Regions from separate parts of the Homo sapiens genome. Here region 2 is linked to region 1. The links come from fine-mapping of genetic effects on gene expression. Tissue or cell type: whole blood. Region 1 holds a variant in brackets; the other region holds the start of a gene. All regions are shown on one strand. Distances are between the middles of the regions.

The links. PIP is the estimated chance that this variant, and not a neighbour inherited with it, causes the effect.
Region 2: it holds the start of TPST1, and the variant in region 1 is fine-mapped to the expression of TPST1 in whole blood (INTERVAL, PIP above 0.99).

Annotation. Positions count from the first base shown.
Region 1 is chr7:65,405,499-65,408,181 of GRCh38, reverse strand. No RefSeq gene overlaps it. Among named protein-coding and RNA genes, the nearest start is that of ZNF92, 33 kb to the right of the region's middle. The variant G/T (reference allele first, on the strand shown) is at 1,034.
Region 2 is chr7:66,203,762-66,206,444 of GRCh38, reverse strand. TPST1 (tyrosylprotein sulfotransferase 1) reads right to left here and starts at 1,111. Exons shown (of 6, transcript NM_003596.4): 1 at 923-1,111. RefSeq lists silencers at 709-1,068, 1,219-1,488.

The DNA of each region.
Region 1 (2,683 bases):
CTTTAAAAAGATTGGGGTTTCTTAATATTAAGATTGCTCAGCTGTGACACAAATCTTTCCCATGTGCAATGTCCACTTGAGCTTTTTGAAATCCCTCTAAAAAAAAGTAGCATGGACAAATACAAACATGAAGTTTGGCCTTCAGTTATACAGTAAATAGTAGGGATTTTGTCATACTTCAGTGTCTCATGCCTTCTACCAGCATCCATAAAACTGGAAGGTTAAGGTGGGGTGGAGCCAAGGTTGCTGAATAGGAACAGCTCCAGTCTACAGCTCCCAGCATGAGTGATGCAGAAGACAGGTGATTTCTGCATTTCCAACTGAAGTACTGGGTTCATCTCACTGGGGAGTGTCAGACAGTGGGTGCAGGATAGTGGGTGCAGTGCACCAAGAATGAGCCAAAGCAGGGCAAGGCATTGCCTCACATAGGAAGTGCAAGGGGTCAGGGAATTCCCTTTCCTAGTCAAAGAAAGGGGTGACAAACGGCACCTGGAAAATCGGGTCACTCCCACCCTAATACTGCACTTTTCCAACAGTCTTAGCAAATGGCACACCAGGAGATTATATCCCGTGCCTGGCTCGGAGGGTCCTATGCCCACGGAGCCTCACTTATTGCTAGCACATCAGTCTAAGATCAAACTGCAAGGCGGCAGGGAGGCTGGGGGAGGGGCGACCACCATTGCCAAGGCTTGAGTAGGTGAACAAAGCAGCCGGGAAGCTCGAACTGGGTGGGGCCCACTGCAACTCAAGGAGGCCTGCCTGCCTCTATAGACTCCACCTCTGGGGGCAGGGCATAGCCAAACAAAAGGCAGCAGAAACCTCTGCAGACTTCAATGTCCCTGTCTGACAGCTTTGAAGAGAGTAGTGGTTCTCCCAGCATGCAGCTTGAGATCTGAGAATGGGCAGACTGCCTCCTCAAGTGGGTCCCTGACCTCCGAGTAGCCTAACTGGGAGGCACGCCCCAGTAGGGGCAGACTGACACCTCACACAGCCAGGTACTCCTCTGAGACAAAACTTCCAGATGAACGATCAG[G/T]CAGCAGCATTTGCGGTTCACCAATATCCACTGTTCTTCAGCCACCACTCCTGATACCCAGGCAAACAGAGTCTGGAGTGGACCTCCAGCAAACTCCAACAGACCTGCAGCTGAGGGTCCTGACTGTTAGAAGGAAAACTAACAAACAGAAAGGACATCCTCACCAAAACCCCATCTGTACATCACCATCATATCCTGAAGAACTGAATCATATCCTGAAGAACTGAATCATATCCTGAAGAAATGAATCATATCCTGGAGGATCAAAACTGAAGGAATAATATATTAAAGCAATGCAGGTTGCATACTAAAATGAGCAGAGCAGTAGGTCATCTGCAGATCGCAAGACCCTGATCTGAGAATGGGAAAACTCAGAGAGGTCCTTTGACAGTGCCTGGCCAGATAAGTGAGGTCTGTATCAAAATCCCTGCGGCAACACCATCCATGTTAACTGGGTTGTTTGGCCAGAGGAATCTTCGAAAGCAAATCATTATTGAGGGTCAGGATGTAATGTTATACAGAAAAACGCATCCTTTGGATCTAATACTGAGAACCATTTAGTTCCCTCAGGTATAGGGATTAGGTACCACTGCATGGATTGGAACTACAGCTTCATTAATGAGGCAAGGTGCTGAACTAGCCTTCATTCCCTCTAGGTTTTTGCACTCCTAATATTGGGGTGTTGCAGGAACTGTTACAGGGTTTGAGGTGGCCCCACATTGTCAGGTTATTAATAATGGCTTCTAGCCATTTCCTATCCTCTGGCTTTAGGGGCTATTGTCTCTGTTAGGAAAAGAGGTGGGATCCTTAAGATGGATCCAGACTGGCCAAACAGTTATAGCTTGACCAATTCTTCCTTGTGTTGCCCACACTTCTGGATTAAGATTAGCTTCCACCAGGAGGAGACAAAGAGTTTGTCCTGGGGCTATAAAGATGCTGGCCCCCAAGTGCGCTAAAATATCTCTACCTAATAAAGGAATAGGACTTTCAGCCATGATTAAAAAGGCATGTGTAAATAATAGGCCCCCCAAACTACAACTAATAAGTTGAGAAAAATATGAGGTTAGCACCTTTCCTGAGACACTCATCATGGTTATGCTACAAGGACGGGGAGGCCTGGACTAGAGAGGAGAAGAGAAAGGCTACCTCCAGTGTCTATGAGGTCCACCCTCCTTTCTTCAATTTCTATAATCACCTGGGGTTCTTATGCAGTAATGGCATTTTGAGCCACTGGAGCCAGGAATTTGAGCCCCAGGACCTGTCAGTCCCATTGGACTACTGTGAGATTGGTTCTGAATCCAGTGACCTCCATCTCTGGGGGCAGTCCAATCTCCAGTGATTCCCACCACAAGCTGCACAAGGTCAAGATGGCTTCTTCTTGCTGCCTGGGCACTCCTTCCTGAAGTGCCCTGAGTTGCCACACCAGTAGCAACTAGTAGATGCGCCTTGGGGATCCTGGGCTTTGCAAGTCTGCAACGCAGCTATATCCTTCTCTTTTGCTTTCTCTCTTTCTCTTGAGCCTCCTCCTTGTCCCTATTAGAAAAGACTGAGGTGACTATCCTCAGGAGGTTTTCCAAGGTGCTATCTGGTCCTACAGCTTGTTTTTGCAGTTTTCTTCGAATATTGGGAACCGCCGGTGTAATAAACTTG
Region 2 (2,683 bases), 800 kb before region 1:
TGGACACTGGACTTCTTGCTACCATCATCTGGAAAGTACAAAACGCCTGGAAGGAGGAAGAGGCTAACATGCGTGACCACCCACCATGTGCCAGGCCTACTGTGTGCTAGACTCTGGGCAAGGGACTTTACATGTTATGGGGTGCAGCTCATGTAAGGACGAATGAAGATATTACACTATGGATCTGAGCCAGGCGCAGTGGCTCACGCCTGTAATCCCAGCACTTTGGAGGCCGAGGCAGAAGGATAGCTTGAGGTCAGGAGTTCGAAGCCAGCCTGGGCAACATAGAGACTCCATCTCTCAAAAAAAAAAAAAAAAAAAGCGATGAATCCGGCATTGCAGAGAGTGGGAAAGTGTCTGGAGGTTTAAGAGTAAGAGAAGGAAGAGGAGATTGCGATGGTGGGTGGTCAAAGTGAGGGGAGAAGAGGCGAGTTGGGAAAGGAAGGTGCTTAGGAGCAAAAGGGCAAGACCCAGGGACACCTGGAGCGGGGCGGGCGACTGCCATGCAGACAGGACTACGTACAACGGGTAGGATGATGGGGCGATGAGCTCAAGAAGCGCAGCCGGGGTAGACGTGGGGGCAAATGTCCGATCCCGGCGAGACGAGGGTCTCATCCCAGGGGACTGCGGGGCTAGGACGTGGTCCCAGGGCTGCGAGAAGGGAGAGAAAGGGCAGAGGGGAGAGGCCCCGGCGGCCGGGGCGAAGCCGAGCCCGGGAAATGCCGGCGATGGGGGAAGGGGCGTGGGAGCAGGGGCCGGACGGGCCAGACCCGGGGCTCCGCGCTCGGGGGCGGGGTTGGACAACCGGGAGGCACCGAGCAGAAGGCGACAAGGGGCCAAGGGATGCCAGGACGGGGCACAGGGCCGGGTGTGAGGAGACGAGAGGGGAGCGGAGCCGCAGCGAGCGCCGCGTCCCCCTTACCTGGGATGAGTGAGGAGCCGCCGCGCCGCCTGGACGGCATCCTGGCCTCAGCCGCTGGTCCCACCGCCTTCGGTGGGGGGCCACTCGGGAGCCCGCCCTCACCGCCAAGCGCCGGCAGCTGCCAGCCTGGACCGGCCCCGCAGAGCAGCGCCGTTCCGACCCGCAACCGAAGCCGCCTCAGCAGCGTCTCCCGCGGTCGCCAACTCAGCGACAACCGCCAGGGTCCGGGGAGGTGGCGGGATCACACATCTGCTACGATTGGCTGAGCGGACGATGTGTCGGCTGCTCTGATTCGTGAGTTCCGGCCGGCTGCCCACCGAAGGAGGCGCGGCTGGGAATGGAGCTGGGTCCGGCAGGCGCCGAGGGGCGGGGGTCTGACGTCGCAGCCGGCCAGCGCCCCCACAGCCCTTCCCGTGCGCGCTCCCGAGGGGGCTTCCCGGCAGCCGCAGGCCTGGCCGGGTGGTTGCCCTAGCAACAGCGCGCGTGGCCTGGCTGCAGGGGAGCCGCGGGCAGGTGGCGGTCCTCACCGCCCCCACCCCCAACGTGGGTGTCCCAGAGGCCTTCATCAGTGAAACCCTAGGACAGGAGAAGAAAATGAGCTTTTCCTGATAATTCCTCTCCTCTGCTTCAGAGCCCACCTTTGCCCGCTGCTGGCAGAGAAGCTGTCATCTCCTCGGGGAGATAACGCGCAAATGCAAATAACGAACTCAAACACTATTTCATCCCCACGAGAGTGTAGACGTGCAATAGTCCCTCCCAACCACAGAGGTGGGGGGCTGACGCCCTAAAAGAAAGAAATGAAAACTAGGGAGAAAAAGGCAAAGAAGCAAAAGAAAGGTGGGGAAAGGGCAGATATTTCACAAAATGATCCATTCATTTTACAGTTTCTTCCTACAGACACATCTACACCAGGTTCTGTCAAAGCAATTATTTCTACTCCAGTGACATGGATTAGAGAAGGCATGAGTGCAGAATCTAACAGCTGTATTCAAAATTGCTCTCTGCTAGGCCAGGTGGGGTGGCTCATGCCTCTAATCACAGCACTTTGGGAAGCCAAAGCTGGTGAATCACCTGAGGTCAGGAGTTCGAGACCAGCCTGGCCAACATAGTGAAACCCCGTCCCTGCTAAAAATACAAAAATTAGCCGGGCATGGTGGCGGACGCCTGTCGTCCCAGCTACTGGGGAGGCTGTGGCAGGAGAATTGCTTGAACCCGGGAAGGTAACTACCTTCCTTTGCACACAGTATAATATTTTCAAAGTTCATCCATGTTGTAGCATGTATCGGCACTTCATTCCTTGTTACGGCCGAATAATAGTCCATTATACAGACATCACCTTTTTTTTTTTTGAAGAGTCTCACTCTGTCTCCCAGGCTGGAGTGGAGTTATGTGATCTTGGCTCACTGCAACCTCCACCTCCTGGGCTCAAGTGATTCTCATGCCTCCGCCTCCAAAGTAGCTAGAATTACATGCATGTGCCACCATGCCTGGCTAATTTTTATATTTTTAGTAGAGACGGGGTTTCATCAAGTTGCCCAGGCTGATCTTGAACTCCTGGCCTCAAGTGATCTGCCTGCCTTGGCCTCCCAAAGTGCTGGGATTACAGGCATGGGCCACCGTGCCTGGCTGGACATCATCTTTTATTTATCCATTAATCCATTGATGGACATCTGTTTCTACTTTTTTGGCTATTATACATGATGCTGCTATGAACATTTGTGTAGAAGTTTTTGTGTGTGGCCGGGTGCAGTGGCTCACGCC